Linked DNA regions of Homo sapiens: region 1 is linked to region 2. Evidence: fine-mapped expression QTL. A gene starts in region 2. The other region holds a variant in brackets. All regions are shown on one strand. Distances are between the middles of the regions. Region 1 overlaps OTOF (otoferlin). Region 2 holds the start of CIMIP2C (ciliary microtubule inner protein 2C).

Region 1 (8,330 bases), 20 kb after region 2:
AGTAGCTGGGATTACAGGCATGCACCATCACTCCCAGCTAATTTTTGTATTTTCAGTAGAGACGAGGTTTCACCATGTTGGTCAGGCTGGTCTCGAACTCCTGACCTCAAGTGATCCACCAGCCTCGGCCTCCTAAAGTGCTGGGATTACAGGCATGAGCCACTTCGCCTGGCCATGGTTTCTCTTCCTTATCTTTTTTCCTAACATTTTCTTTTCTCTAGCTTACTTTATTGTAAAAGTACAGTACATAATACATATACAAAATATGTGTTAATTGGCTGTTTATGTTATCATTAAGGCTTCTGGTTAACAGTAGTCTATTAGTAGCTAAGTTTTTGGGGAGTCAAAATTTATATGCAGCTTTTCAACTATATGAGGGGCTGGTACCTCTAATCCCTGTGTTGTTCAAGGGTCAACTATATTTAATTATAAGTCTAACTATAAAGTTAAAGGAATTAAGAAAGTGTGGCATTGGTCTAAGAATAGACATATAGACCAATGGAGCAGAATAGTGTCCAGAAATAAACTCTGTACATATAAAATCAATTGATTTTCAATCAAGGTGTTGGATATCTAGAACTAGGTATCTATATGGAGAAAAAATGAACTTCAAACTCCTACCTCATACCATCCACAAAAATTAATGTAAGATGGATTATAGAATTAAACATTAAAAACTTATAAGCTTCTAGAAGAAAATATAGAACATCTTTTTTTGTATTCTTGGGTTAGGCAAAGGTTTCTTAAAGAAAAATTTTAAAAGACTAAACATAAGAAATAAATTTCACTAAAAACTTGCATTTCTTAAAAATTGGAAACTCTCTTTGGCTAGTCACAGAGTAAAAAAAATTGAAAACTCCTATTCATAAAAAAATCACATTTAAGAAGGCAAGAGAAGGCAAGTCACACACAGGAAGAAAATATTCACATTTATCTGACAAAGGACTTGTAGCCAGAATATATAAAGAATCCCTATAAGTCAATAATAATAAGACAAATTATGAAATTTTTTATGTAGGCAAAAGACTTGAAGAGACACTCCATAGAATAAGATAGACGTATGGCCAATAAACATGTGAAAATGTGATCAACATCCTGAGTCATTAGAGAAATGAAGATCAAAATTACAAAGAGATATTATTTCACATGCTCTAAAATAGCTAAAATGTAAAAGTCTGACAGTAATCAAATGTTGATGAGGATGGAACAACTGAAATTTTTTTTACATTGCTGATAAGAGTGTGAAATGATGCAATCCCCTTAGAAAACTATTTGGCGATTTCTTTCTTTTCTTTTCTTTTTTTTTTTTTTTGGGATGGCATCTCGTTCTGTCACCCAGGCTGGAGTGCAGTGGTGTGATCTTGGTTCAATGCAACCTTTGCCTCCCGGGTTCAAGCGATTCTCCTGCTTCAGCCTCCCGAGTAGCTGGGACTACAGGTTCGCACCACCACGCCTGGCTAATTTTTTTTTTGTATTTTTAGTAGAGACAGGGTTTCACCGTGTTAGCCATGATGGTCTCCATCTCCTGACCTCATGATCTGCCTGCCTCAGCCTCCCAAAGTGCTGGGATTACAGGCATGAGCCATTGCGCCCGGCCAGCAATTTCTTATAAAGCTAAGGGTACCTATCCTGTGACATAACCATTCTGTTCTTAGGAATTTCCTCAAGAGAAATAAAATTATATTTTCAGAAAAAGACTCACATGAATGTTTACAGCAACTTTGCTCATATAGCCCAACCCTAGAAGCACCCAAAAGTTTATCATCAACAGAGAAATGGACCAAGAAGTTGTGGTATAGGCATGCAACGGGCTATTACTCTACAATAAAAATCAATACATTACTTATATATGCAACAACATGGATGAATCACAAAAACATTACCTTGACCAAAAGAAGCCAGACACACAAAAAGTACATTCTGTAGGATACCTTTTATATGAAGTTTAAAACAGGCAAACTGATCTTTGGTGCTAGAAATCAGAGCACTGGTTACTAAGGGACTAGAAATCGACTGGAAAGGGACATGAGAGAACATGTGGAACAAATGGAAATGTTCTATGTCTTGATTGTGTGGCGGTATACAGGGAAATGCATTTATTGAAACTCATTGAATTTTACACTTAAGATCCATGAATGTAAGTTTCACCTAGTTTTAAAAAAAGAAGAGAGACTCACATCTAAAATACCTAAAACTTGAAAAATATTATATAAGATGAGGAAAAAAATTATTTCTGATTCCATGCTACTAAAAATAAGCTACAAATGTGATTCATAATAGAAGAAGCCATTTTTATATTTAGCACATAACTTAAAGGTCTAAAGGACAAGCAAGCTGGGCGCAGTGGCCCACGCCTATAATCCTAGCATTTTGGGAGGCCAAGGCAGGAGGATCACTTAAAGTCAGGAATTTGAGAACAGCTTGGCCACATGCTGGTGAAACCCTGTCTCTCTAAAAATACAAAAAAAGTTAGCCAGGCATGGTGGCACACGCCTGTAATTCCAGCTACTTAGGAGGCTAATGCAGGAGAGTCACTTGAACCCAGGAGGTGGAGGTTGCAGTGAGCGGAGATTACGCCACTGCACTCCAGCCTGGGTGACAGATCAAGACTCCGTCTCAAAAAAATAAATTCAAAACAAAATAGAATGAAGGAGAAACAAGACTATTTAGTAGACTGAGAATAGCTGTTTCTTATTGAGGGATAAACTGCACCAAATGCTATTGTAAGCATTATTATTTCCTTCATTTTAAGGGTGAGGAAACAAGGGCAAAGAGAAGTTAATTAGCTTCATCCAGGGCACGCAAACTAGGAAGAGGCAGCTGGGATTTGAACTCAGGGACTCTGGCCCAAGAGCCTTAACCTCTATCCCATGCCCCCTCGTGCTTGTAAAGGACTTGATGCTTTACTTAGACTTTCCCACAACAGTTTCTTGTCATCCTCGTGATGGTCCCAGGACACAGGCTGGTCCAGGATAATGACCCCCGGCTAACAGATGGTGAGTCTGAGACCCCAAGGGGTTGGATGGCCAGCTCCCAGGCCTCCAGACCATGGGCCGTTGTGCCGGGCCGCACACCTGAGTGGGCCTGGCTTTTTCCTGCACGCAGGGGTGCTTGGGCCCTGCTTCCTGGTGCTCCATGGGAGTATCTGGCCTTCAAAAGGAACAGATCGATCTGAAGTGGGGAGAGAGAAAATACAGCAGGACCATCACTCAGAGAGTCGCTGTAGAGGAAGAGAGGGAGAGGAGACGCCAGGACATGGGAGCTTTGTGGGAGGGAATGGGACTATTTGCTGAGCTTTGTACAGCCCAGCCCAGGCAGTGCATACAACAAGGCTTTGCTGATTTTAAATAACACAAGGAAATAGCAGCCCCAGGTCTGAGTCACCAGCAGAGTTTTACTCTATTTCTCAGCTCACACAGGGACAATAGCAATGGCAGGCACTGCTGGGAGATAGGCTAGTGGGCTGGGCCCTGGCAAAATCACGACGTCCTTGAAAACAGTCCCAGGACCTTCTCCTTCCCCTTCGGATGGCCCACCACCTCACCCTCTGCCCTTTCGGGACCCCAGCCCCTCTCCAGTCTTGCTTCCACAGGCTGCTCCCTGAGGGCAGACCATTCTTGCTTTTCCCTTCACCATCGGGACTCCCCTGTCCTGTGTCCAGCTCCTTGGAGGCTCTACTCTCTGCTCTACGCTTTCAAACATTTCCTTACACTGTTCTCTCTGCCTGGATTTCCCTCCTTCTCCTTGCTTCCCAGTCTCTCTGAATATCCAGATTTCTTCTGGTCTTCTAGCGTCAATGCGTGTGCCTCTGCAATGCCTCCTTAATCCACTACATTGAGAGTCATTGCTCCTTTTCCTGTGTTCTCACTTTATTTACACTTTTTGCATGCCAATGACAAAATTCTGCCTTGTATCATCGGCAGAATTTTCCATGTCTGATATATCTCCCTCTGGATTGTAATACGCTCTTAAAGGCATCGTTCAGATTCGAATGATCTTAGTACAACTCCCCTCTGTGAAGGCCAAATGGCACACAAGCCAGGAGCTAGAAAGCCCTGGTTGCCTGTGGAAATGAATGAACACACATGGGCTGGCAGCCGTGTCCCTGCACACCTGCCTTTTCTCAGAGGTGTGGCCCTAGCAGGGTAAGCTGTCTGGAAGAGGGAGCTATTTTGTGCAGATGGAACATTTTGTCCCCTTAAATCATGTCCCATGAAAGGCCAGCATGGCATCCTGCTTCTGAAACAAGCACTGAGCTCGTCTCCATTTGGAGAAGATCTGTCGTGTGGGTATTTTTAAATGGTGAAAGGAGAAATGGGTATATCTGATACCATGGCACTTGTTACACTTTAAGCACAGACTCTGTTATTCATACTCCATCTATTGACTCAGGGAGGAGTTTATTTCAAACCAAACAGCTCAGCTATCCCAGGAGCAGCTGCCTCAGAAGGAAGGAGGATGCTGTTCTATTTCCCCCATCGAACCTCCTTCTCACTCGATCCACAACAGCCTTTCCATGCAAGGAAGAGGCTATTTTCTTTCAAGCTTTATTCTCCATTTTCCCTGTGGCAAGAAAGGTGATTGGATATTGGGATTTGTAATGGTTTTATCTGAAAGCCATTTAAAATGAAGCTGGAATGTCAACAAGACTGACGCTGAATGGAGTAGATGTGAAGTGGAAATGAACTTGAAACAAGAGATGGGGTTAGTCATCCCCCTGATCACTTGGAACAGATGATGGAGGTCCCCTGCCTCTGCTCCAGTGAACAGAACAGAAC[C/A]ACTTGAATACTGCCAGCCACTGTTTGTACATACCCTCCTGAAACGGCTCTTCCAAAATGCTGAAGGACATTTTGTTTTCTTAATAATTTGGCCTTTCCACTGTTTCTGTATGATTGATGTGTTTCAGCAAACCTTTTTTAAAAAAGAATATCTACAGGTAAATTTAGCTCATCATGTTTGAGAATATTCACCATCTCTAAATCCCCAGGGCCTAAATCAATGAGGTTTTAGCACATTTTGAAACAGAACCCTGATGTATAAATTCTGCAATGGCTGATTTCACGTATTTTACTTCCTCTCTAACAAAGCTATGGAAAAATGCACAAGCAGGGGAGGGTTTGATCCTCGGTGTTTCCTGCAGATGTGAATCTGACACCACCTTGGAGCAGGGCCCCTCCCCACCTTCTCCCAATCCTCCGCTGGGTTGCTGCATTTTTCACTCCAAGAGACCCCGGAGGACAGCTATATCCGAGGCTTATTAAAATCTTCTAGGATGCAAAGGCCTTTGGTTATTCAGAGCAGCAGGTCTTTAGGGGAAGCCCCCATACACAAACATGCTCAGCTGATTCTCAATTTATATTGTGTGTTACCTGCGGGGAAAATTAAAAGCTCAAACCTCAGGCACTTTCCCTCTCCTCCCTTGATTGCCCGGGGGCTTGTTGTTGAGATATTTCTTGTTGATTTTTTTGTTTTTTATGTCTCTGGCTGGTGCTAAACATTCTTTCTTTCCCATCATGTTTACTTCACATCTCTTTGCCGTATAGATAGCTTCTGCTTTATGGTTTTTTCCTCCTTATCTCAGATGCAGCCAGCCCTTCCCCACCTGCCCCCGCCCCAAAACACACACACGAACACACACCCTTTCAGACTGCATCCACACTCTCTGTTTCAGTGGATCTGACATCAACGACCCCGCCACCCCCGGCCCTCGTCAGAGGGGAGCTCTGCATTGAACTAGGACTAGCTCCTGGGTCATAAAAGTTGCTAGGACCCTGGAGAGCTCTTACTAAACAGATGAGGCCACCACTGACAGAGGAGAGAGGTCAGTTCCCGGAGGGAACGAGCCTGCTTTGCTGAGCCCCCTTCCTTGCCCAGCCCCCAGACCCATCACAGGGAAGGTTCAGAGGAGCTCTGACCCCTCCAGTACCTCCTTGGCCTGACGCCGCTCTAGCCCGGGCTCCCAGGTTTTCTGTAGGGAGAGGAGCACAGTCCGCTCCACCCATGCCATGGGCTTCATCAGTGACAACCCAAACTCACCCCCAAATAGGAATGGCTTCAACCTGGAGACAGCCCTTCAATGAAATGGTTTATGCTGGTGGAGATTTAAAGGTATTCGTCTTTCGGCTGGGCGCGGTGACTCACACCTATAATCCCAGCACTTTGGGAGGCCGAGGTGGGAGATCACTTGAGGCCAGGAATTCGAGACCAGCCTGACCAACATGCGAAACCCCATCTCTACTAAAAGTAAAAAAATTAGCTAGGCACAGTGGCGCATGCCTGTAATCCCAACTACTTGGGAGGCTGAGGCACGAGAATCATTTGAACCCCGGAGGCAGAGTTTGCAGTGAGCCAAGATTACACTACTGCACTCCAGCCTGGGTGACAGAGCAAGACTCTGTCTCAAGACAAACAAAAAGGGTGTTTGTCTTTCAATTGCAAAAATCAAGCATGGTCACTGAAAAAAAATTCAAATTCACATTTCATTTTGTTTTGTTTTGTTTTGTTTGTCTTTCAGCCAGGTGCAGTGGCTCACATCAAAGTATGCTGCTTTCAATATCTTCTCACTCTCCCTCCCCAGGGATAACCACTTTCTTTTTTATTTTATTTATTTAACTTTTTTGAGATGGAGTTTCACTAGTTGCCCAGGCTGGAGTGCAATGGCGCAATCTCGGCCCACCACAACCTCCGCCTCCTGGGTTCAAGCGATTCTCCTGCCTCGGCCTCTTGAGTAGCTGGGATTACAGGCATGTGCCACCACACCCAGCTATTTTTGTATTTTTAGTAGAGACGGGGTTTCTCCATGTTGGTCAAGCAGGTCTCGAACTCCCGACCTCAGGTGATCCGCCCGCCTCGGCCTCCCAAATTGCTGGGATTACAGGCGTGAGCCACTGCGCCCAGGGGGGTAACCACTTTCAGTGGTTTGAGATGTTTGTCTCTTCATAGAAGAAATATATGCATATAGTTTGGGTTTTGGTATTTTTTTTAATTAATGGAGTTCTAATATACATGCTGCCTTTTTTCCCTTACCATGGAATTGACACAGGATAATAAATTAATTCTAAGCAACAAATTTTTCTTTAACCCATCCTGTCTCTAGGTTTCTCCTCACAGAAATTACAACCCCTTCTCTTGTGGTTCCATCCCATCCCTAAAACAGTATTTATCCTCCCTTCTCTGTACCATTACTGTTTCTTGTGCGAAATTGTACCTTGGAGTATGTACTGAATGGTGTTGTACTGGAGGCCTGGCGCGGTGACTCATGCCTGTAATCCCAGCACTTTGGGAGACCAAGGTGGGCGGGTCATTTGAGGTCAAGAGTTCCAGACGAGCCTGGCCAACATGGTGAAACCCCGTCTCTACTAAAAATACAAAAATTAGCTGGGCATGGTGGCGGCGCCTGTAATCCCAGTTACTCAGGAGGCTGAGGCAGGAGAATCGCTTGAACCCAGGAGGCGGAGGTTGCAGTGAGCCGAGATCGTGCCACTGCAATCCAGCCTGGGAACAGAGCAAGACTGCATCTCAAAAAAAAAAAAAAAATGGTGTTTCCCTTGCACTGGTGCCCTGTTGGCTCCTGGCCTCCCTTCTAGACCATCAGCTACCTGTGGGTGGGAGCCTGTGCCTTTGTCATTGGTCCATCCTCTATCCCGAGGCCCCGGGACATGGCCTAGAACATCAGAGACTCCAGCGGCTGTTTCTCAAAGTGAACTGAACTAGCTGGTGTTTCCCACACGATGGAGCCCCCTCGACCTGCCCTCGATTCTCTCCTGACTTATTTCTCCCCACATCTTGGGCCAGTTCCAGCTGGACTAGCAAAGAGGGCAGCTTTACCTCTGTGCTCCCAACATGCCCTAGTGGGTGGCGTATGGATGGGGGAGCCTGGGACAATGTGTGTCCATCTCACACACTCTCTACTTCCCATGCCAGTGGGGAAAGTGGGGGCAGGAATAGAGCCCGGGAGGGAACTGCCAGAGACTGTCTTCTCTGCTAAGGCTGACAGGAAGACGGACAACCATGACAGTGGTGGAAGGGGAAGGCCCTTGGCCCACGGGGAATGGCTGTCTGGAAGCTGACTTGTTGTTGGGGGCCTGGTTTGGGCAGGAACCCCTGGGGTGGCTGCAGAAGGAGGCTGGGCTTCACAGACCCCTGTCGGCAGGCAGGGGCTACGCCCCCTATACTAGGCTTCTGCTCAGGGCAGCAGGGCCCGGAGCCACCAGCAGAGCTGAGGAGGCTGCAGAGGAGGCTGAGAGATCCATGGAGGAAGAACATGGTGGAAAAGAGTGCCTGAGGTCCGCTTCCACGGCCACTCTGACCAGCCTGGGCCTTCTGTGCCT
Region 2 (8,330 bases):
CCAGAAACAGAGAATGAGGAGTGGATGCCACCCAGATCCGACTTGCAAGCAGGAAGCTTGGATCCTCACTGAGGCCAATCTCATCCCTTCAAACCCCTTCAAATCTCAGGGGCTCTGACCCAAGAGCTCCTGCCCACTGCAGGAATAGCACCCAGGCCAGGCGTAGGCAGGCACTGCCTGTGGCAAGGTGCCTAGGAGCTGTGTCCCCAGGAACAGCATGGAACCAAATGGAGCACCCTGGCCGGCGAGGCTGAAGACCAGCTTTGTTATTATTTCATGTTCCCCGGGGTTCCTAGAACCAGATCTTGAACACAGTAGAGATCTAACTAATGATAACAGCTAACAATGATCAAGTGCCAGGCTTTACGCATGTTAACTAACTGAAACCTCTTTAACCTGCACACCGTGATCATCCCCATTGAACAGATAAGGTAGGTGAGGCAGGGGGGATAAGTAACCTGCCCAGGGTAAGGAAGTCATGGAGCCAGGATTCGTACCAGGCAGGCTTGCTCCAGAGTCCATCTCTTACTGTCGACCCCATTCCCTCCCTGCTAAATGAGGGAGGCAGTGTGAAACACCACATGACGGTTGGGGAGATATTGGGGTGAGTTGGGGCGTTGAAGTCACAAAGCCGAGGCTCGGCAACTTGCTGAATGACTTTGGGCAAGCTGCTCATTCCTCATCTGGGTTATTGTGATGATTTTAAAAAAGAAAAAAGGCCAGGCGTGGTGGCTCATGCCTGTAATCCCAGCACTTTGGGAGGCCAAGGCGGGTTGATCATCTGAGGTCAGGAGTTCGAGACCAGCCTGGCCAACATGGCAAAACCCCGCCTGTACTAAAAATACAAAAATTAGCCGGCTGTGGTGGCGCGTGCCTGTAATCCCAGCTACTCAGGAGGCTGAGGTAGGGAGAATTGCTTGAACCCAGGAGGCAGAGGTTGCTGTGAGCCGAGATTGCGCCATTGCACTCCAGCCTGGGCAACAGAGCAAGACTCCATTAAAAAAAGAAGAAGGGGTAGGGGAAGGGGAAGGGGAAGGGGAAGGGGAAGAAGAAGGAGAAGGAGAAGGAGAAGGAGAAGAAGAAGAAGAAGAAAATGTTGTGAAGGGCCCAGCACAGTGCCTGGTACATAGTTGGAGCTCAGACTTAGGAGATCATGGTGTTATTGCCAGGCATTAGGGACCTGGCTCCAGCCCAGCACTTCAATCACCAGCGTGGGGCTCAGGCAAGTCCCCCCACACCTCAGTGACCACATCTGGAACAGGAGGGGACAGGGCTACATGATCTCTGAGGTCCACACCAGCATGAATATTCTCGCCTCTATGAATAAAGCAGGTAAGAGCAGGGTGATGTGAGTGTCAGAAGAGACTGGCTGTGCTTTAAAATCCTGTGATTAGTGTTTGAACAGACACACAAAAATAAGAATTATCCAAGTGTGGTCGGGAATCTTGGGTTCTTTCATTAAGTTAACAGAATTGCCAACGAGGTAGCATTTGGAAACACAAAATGACTCAATTCATCCCTTGCTGATGGGAATCTTTAAGGGGAACACAACCCTTCCAGAAAGATCTAGATGAGAAAGCAGCAGATACGGGCTCAGCTGCTCAAACTAGCCCAGTCCAGGCTTGAAGCCTCATTCATGATCCTCTTATTGCCATTTCTAAATCAATCACAGGACAGGGCGCTCAAGGGAACTGCTGAGAAGTGGCAGGAATAGGAAAGCACCCTGGGGACTGCTTCTGAAACCTGCAGCTCCCACCCCTGCCAAACAGAGTTGGGGAACTGTGGGGCAGGGTTTGCAGGAGCACCAGGCCTTGCCCCTCAGATGGGAAATGTCCAGGAGTCAGACAATAGAAAATTTTCCAACTGGAGACTGTGGGAGGCTTAAGAAAAAAAGTCAATGTATAAAATCAAATCTCATGATGAACACCCAGAATGTGGTGTCAGCACCACAATCCAAGGCTGCAAAAATGGATTTGAACTAAACCTTATGTGTTTACACCACACTAGGGCAGCCCCTCACTTGTTTGTCTTTGTCTTCCCAGCCTCCTAACATAACACCTGGCATGTCCCAAGCACTGACCCACATGAATGTCTTAAATAAAGGAAAACGGGCAAATCCTAAGTCACCTGGCTTGGCTTCGGGAAACTACCATGACCTGGTAAATCAGCTTTGTCTGATGGGAACCCTGGTAGCTTTTGAGCTCCCTCCAAGGCCCAGAGAGAGGTCGCATCCACAAATGGGCTAGGTTAAAACTACAGCACCAGCCCCTGGTTGCTACTTTCTCATGCAGCCTCCAGAAATGATTTGAATGTCACAGCACCTCTGTGTCTAGCTTATTCTGCTTCAAAACAATCTCAACTTCATACCAAATACACTTTTCTTCATGTTGCCATCTGTTCCGATTGCAGGGGAGAGCATGCGGGCTTTTTCACCCATTTGGAGACTCTGCCTGCAGAATCCTCAAGACATTCATTTCATTCATTCGTTCACTCTTTTTTTCAGACAAGGGTTCTTAGGATCATTCATTCATTCTATACAGATTTGCTGATACTGTACAGGTTGCCTCTCAGAATCCAGTGCCTGTTCTCAGTACCTATGCTGACTGGTAGGAGGGATAAAGACAGCCTTACACCCTGGGAGAGGCGGTCCAGAGTAGAAACATCAGACACTGTAGGAGAAAGAGCCAAAGAACAGGAGGCAACAGCCAGACTTGCATGTTAGATGGTTGGAGTCTGAAAATATCCAGAGTAAAGAAAGGTAGGTGTAACCTAGTATTTGAAAGTGCTAAACAGCAAGCCAGCGCTCAGGGCAAGTGGCCAGGAAGCTTTCCAAGAAAAACTTCTGGGAGGATAAAGGGAGGTCTGTGAAAGGACCGACCGCAAAGTCGGGCGGGTACTGCACACATGACCCATTAACTACGGCTCTTCCGGCCTTGCCAGGTTCTTCGAGCGGGCACCCACCCGGTATCCTTCCCTCCTTCAACCAACAAGTACTGACCTTGCCCGAATGCTGGGTGCTGGCCCTGTGCGCCGGACGGAAGGGCCTGATTTTCTCGCATTTTCTCTAAGCGCTGGAGGCTGCCCGCCTGGGGCGTCTCCAAGCACTAAACCCCACGTGGCTCCATCTCCTCCCCCTTCCCCGGCTACATCCATGCGAGGTCCCTTATGCCCTGCTGGCTGTGCCCCACTTGCCAGGGAGCGCCTTCCTGTGAAGGGGAATCTGGGGAGGCCCCCGCCCGTGCCTGCCCACTTCCTACTCTGAAACCACAAACCTCTAGGAAGGCCCCTCGCCCCGTCGGGTGGAAAATTGGCTCCTCGGGGTTCCTTCAACCCCAAAGTCCGGGGGCAGGGGGCTGAATTTCGATCACCGAGGAGGGCGCTAGTGGAAGGGGGAGGGGAGGAGGCGCTCCCTCGGCCTTACCCGGGCATGAGTCCAGGGGGCACGTAGGCGGCATTGAACTCGGTCAGTAGGGTGCCCGCGCTGCGGGAGGCCATGGTGGGTGCGCGAGTACAGCGAGCCTGGCGCTCCGCTCCGCCCCACGGTAAACAGCGGCGGGTCACCTGGCAACGGCCACGGCGGCGAGCCTGGCAACGCCAGCTGGCCCCGCGGTCCTCGCGTTCCGAGACACTGCGCCCCCCTGGCGGCCACCTCCCGGAGCAGCCCCATAGGGCGCGCCCAGAAGGCGCCTCCCATTTCCGCGAGCTCTGCTGGGTGACCCCTGTCACTTGCCCCGGCGCGTCGGGGCTCTCTGCCTTGCTGCCTGCGGGATGTGCAGAGGCTCAGATGCGGGAGGGAGGCAGAACATCGCTGGAGAGGCCTGGCGGGATCCGTCTTGCGGTGACCCGGCTTGGAACGCGACGCTACCACAAAGGACAGGCCAGGTCCTGACTTTGGAGGTCACGCACGAAGCAGCTGCCCCACCGTGGCTCAGGCCCAGAAACCTGAGTGGCCTTAGGGTCCCCAGGAGCTATGTCTCTCCAAGGCTTCCCCTGCACCCCAGCTCCATGGGAGTTCCAGGAAGGGGCTCTGTAGTGGGCCGCGCTGGGCGAGGTTGCCTAGGACGCTGTGTGTAATTGTGTGTGTGCGTGCGTGCGTGCATGTGTGCGTGTGTGTGTGCGCGCCTTGCGAAGAGGAGCATTTTTCATTTTTCTTCTTAATCTCTAGCTGATGGCTTCCTTCTCACCTCATCATACCTGTAAACTACTCCACAAGAGGCAAAAAGAAAATCATAGAACGTCTGGGTGTGTGATTTACATTTGTCCCCAATGCTGCCGTTCATTTTGGGGATGGCATCCGCAGGGGTAGCGCTTGCCCCAGAGAGCAGGCCTGCTGAAGGCCCACCCCCTGTGTAATCCTCCCTGTGACTGCTTCAGCCTCCACATTTGAGTTTCTCCAGGGACCCTTACACCAGCCTTGGTGCCTAGGGCAGGCACAGGGCCTTCGGCTTTTCCATAAGGGGTGAGGGTATGGGGACAGCTTCCACGGTGCCAGGCTCTTGGTGACTCGGGTGGAGGCCCTGCCACCCCAGCTCCCTCTGCAGCAGTCCTGGTGTCATGAAGAAGCCTGGCAGTTCCCACTTTGTCTCCAGGTCTTGCTTCTTCCCTTCAGATGCCGGATGGAGAGCAGTGCTCCCCTCGCACTTCGGTTCTGTAAATGGCAGTGGATGAAGACCGCAGACGCTACTGGGTTCACAGAATGTGGCTGCCACCAGCATTCTCCAAAGACTTCCCCTGGCAAATGCCAATGAAATGAAGGGGAGCCACAGGCTTCCCAGAGGCTCAGGAAGCAGAAACACTGAGGCCTGGTTGGAAAGAGAGCTGTAGGCAAAGGAACGGCTGCAAACAAACTGGGTGGAAGGAAAATCCATCCATCCTTCAGAATGCAGTCATGTCTGTATTTTTCTAAATTCTCATTGGGGAACATGTTCTACAATAAGGAAAACATGAGTCAAAGACCCCCAGCCCTGGTGAGGTTGACCGCCTACTTCCTCCCCCATTCAGGGCTGCCCAGCCAGTCCTGCTGGTAAACCCACCACCCTGCCTTCCACCTGCCTGTGTTCTAGTCCATCTGTCTCGTCTGATTGGGATCCTGTGCCATCCATATCATATTCATCCCTGAATCTCAGCACCTGGCTCTGGAAAGAATTCAGTAAATGTTCATTACATAAATTATATACTCAGTTACCAAAATGGGTAACAGAAGAATGGAAATTAAAAAGTGGGTTCTGGCTGGGAACGGTGGCTCATGCCTGTAATCCCAGCATTTTGGAAGGCCGAGGCAGGCGGATCACTTGAGGTCAGCAGTTTGAGACCAGCCTAGCCAACATGGTGAAACCCCATCTCTACTAAAAATACAAACATTAGCTGGGCATGGTAGCACATGCTTATAGTCTGACCTATTTGGGAGGCTGAGGCAGGAGAATCGCTTGAACCCGGGAGGCAGAGGTTGCAGTGAGCCTAGATCACTCCACTGCCCTCCAGCCTGGGTGACAGAGTGAGACTCTCTCTCAAAAAAAAAAAAAAAAAAAGAGTGGGATCTGTCTCTTAGGTTTTCAGAAAGGCCAGCTGACTCCATTGAGAGCTGCTGAGTGGAATTGCTACCATTTTATGGATGTGGAAAGTGAGATTCAGCATAGATCAATGCCTTGGCTAGGGCAGGATCATGGGCTTTTTCCTAAAGATGCACAGGGTCTATAAGAGGCCTCATGAAATTCACTCCTTTCAGGGGAGGACCTCCAGAGAACCAAGGAAGAAGATATTTTCTGTTGTTGTTGTTGTACCTTGTAGTCACCAAGCCTTAAAAACACAGATCACCTGATGACCTCATGGATGGAAAATGCTAGTGAATTTAGGTGTTTTTTTTTTTAAGACATTAAACTTATCTAGCTTTTGAAAATTTAGCATTCATACTTGTATTCAATAAACAGAATACTCTAAGACATTTTTAAATTCAATATGATTAGATAAATGTGAGAAAGGTAAGCAAGAATTGGTTAGGAAAAAGTGCAAAGGAAAAAAACGTAAGTAGAAAAAGAAAAATAGGGCACAGTAGCAAGGAAATATCTAGAAGGAGGAAAGAAGGCTCTTGGGACATACTGTAGGTTATTTGGAATGCAGAATTCAAAAGAAGTAACCTCTTGTTACCATGCTGTGAAAAATTAGTATTTCTCTTTTTAACCTTTAGACTCTGTTTCAGGTAGATCCCTGAGCTCACTCTTTTATCCTTTCAACAGTAATTGGGCATCCTACGGTGCACAGGATACCATGTGGGGCTCTGGGGTAGAGGGATGCTGTGCTCCAGGGCCCTCCTGAGGTCAGGAGGGGAAAAGGCAAGGGAAGCAGCCCCAGGACTCAGTAAGATGAGAGGAGGCAGGAGCAGCACAGAGGAGGACCCCAACCCAGCTGGGGTGCGGGTACAGAGGCACCTCCAGGAGCAGGCACTCAAGCTGAGTCCAGGGTGGGGTGGAGGGCATTCCACCAAGAATGAATAGCAAGAACAAGGCTGCAGATGACCCTGCACAGATTCCAGCATCAGGGATTCTGGCCCCCAGCGTCCCTTTCCTTGGTGTATGCTGCTGGAAGACAGGAGGGGGCAGTTCTCTTTTGGTCCTTAGAAATTTCCCTATAGACATCCCTTCTCCTGCCCCTAGCAGCTTATAACAGCAGAAGGCCATTCAATTCTGCTCCTCTGGCTGGAAAGCAAACATCAGCCTGGCTTACCTTCGCTAGCCTGCCTGACCCCCAGCCTTGGGGTGGGGCTAGGTTAGTGCCCTGGATCCTTAAACATGGCCCCTGGTAGCACATAAGCCTCTGCTGCCTCCACAACCAGCCATCTCCATCATGCATGGCCTGGTCCTGAGCCTCCCCTCAGGCAGCAGCCCCAGCCTCTCTGCTTCCTGAGATTCAGAAACAGGGATCCCAGGGCAGGGCTCAGGGCCCAGCCTCTTGGGGGCACAGTCTCCAGCAGGGAAGAGGTGGGCGTAGGTGGACAAATACATTCCCTTCTTCTTGTAGTGTGCCCCTGTGGGTGGGAGTGCCCCCCGCCCCACATCCACCCTACCTATGCTCATGCCCACTCCTCTGTGCCCACTACTGGTGGCAGGGCTTGCTTAGCAGGGAAGCAGCAGAGCCCTGCAGAGGGGTGGGCAGAGCCTCCCTTCCAGGAGCTGGGAGAAGACACCTGAAGCTGGACAGAGCTTTATCTGGGAGCCGGCGGCTGCTGAATAATGAATTCCAACTCTGCCGCACTCCCAGGCTGCACATTGGGTGCACACACACACACACACACACGCACACACCGATACACACACGCTGGGCTGACAACTTGGAGGGGCGGGGGCTGTGAGGCTCTGTGAGTCGCTGCAGGAGCAGCTTAGCTCGGCTTGGTTGCCTTGGTCTCTGTGGGCAGCATCGGAGGGGGGTCGGGAGGAGGAGGAGGAGGCAGCGGCAGAGAAGAGAGAGGCGTGTGAGCCGTGCTCCACCGGCTAGCTCCTTCCCGCTGCTCCTGCCTGGCAGTGCCAGGCAGCCCACACCAGCATGGCCTTGCTCATCCACCTCAAGACAGTCTCGGAGCTGCGGGGCAGGGGCGACCGGATCGCCAAAGTGACTTTCCGAGGTAGGGAAGCCGCTGTCTCAGAGGGACGCCAGCTCTGAGAGCTGGACCAGCCCATGCTCTGGAGGTGGCCGGGGATAGGACAGGGCTGGGAGGATGGGTGGGAAAAGTTCTAGCAGGGGCTGGGGCGACGAGCCTTTTCACAGGTAGTCATCTGCCTGGGACTGACTGGCCATTGTGATTTCTGGAAAATCAGGGTCCCCTGTTCTTCCATGCCTGTGTCTCCTTGTGCTTGCCAACATGCCAGTTCCCCGGGCAGGGCACAGAGCCCTCTGCCTGGGGAGGCAGAAGTGAGGACCACATCCCTGAGCTCAGGGAGACCCAGGACCCCCTCCTTCTCTCTCTCTCCCTCTCCTGCAGGTTGATTTCCTTGAGCACAGGGTGGGGGCCGGGTATGGAGCCTGGGGCACCCAGGGTGACTGGGAGAAACCAGGCAGCCAGTAGCTCCCTGGGCCCCAGAGTGATGGGGGACACTGTTGGCTTCTTTTAGATCTATTCATGGGCGGGAACCCCGGGAGCCCCTCGCCTCTCTTCTGTCTGGTCTTTTCTCATCCTTTTCACTCCTGTATTCAGCGACCATTTATTATGATCTACTGTGTCCCAAGGATAGGGGTAGAAACACAGAGCTGAGCACAACCCAGCCCCAGCCCCAAGGAGCCTGCATCTGTTGGGCAGGCGTGGAACAAGCAGGACAGGTATGTGAGACAGAAGGTGGGGG

The links. PIP is the estimated chance that this variant, and not a neighbour inherited with it, causes the effect.
Region 1: its variant is fine-mapped to the expression of CIMIP2C in thyroid (GTEx, PIP 0.99).

Annotation. Positions count from the first base shown.
Region 1 is chr2:26,538,023-26,546,352 of GRCh38, reverse strand. All of the region lies in intron 1 of OTOF (otoferlin), which reads left to right. Among named protein-coding and RNA genes, the nearest start is that of OTOF, 17 kb to the left of the region's middle. RefSeq lists enhancers at 2,561-3,295, 7,668-8,330. The variant C/A (reference allele first, on the strand shown) is at 4,779.
Region 2 is chr2:26,557,778-26,566,107 of GRCh38, reverse strand. It overlaps CIMIP2C (ciliary microtubule inner protein 2C), which reads right to left and starts at 3,521. Exons shown (of 4, transcript NM_001105519.3): 1 at 3,422-3,521. The coding sequence starts at 3,495. OTOF (otoferlin) reads left to right here and starts at 7,352. Exons shown (of 47, transcript NM_194248.3): 1 at 7,352-7,615. The coding sequence starts at 7,537. RefSeq lists a silencer at 3,510-3,649 and enhancers at 3,247-3,747, 6,405-7,197, 7,198-7,991.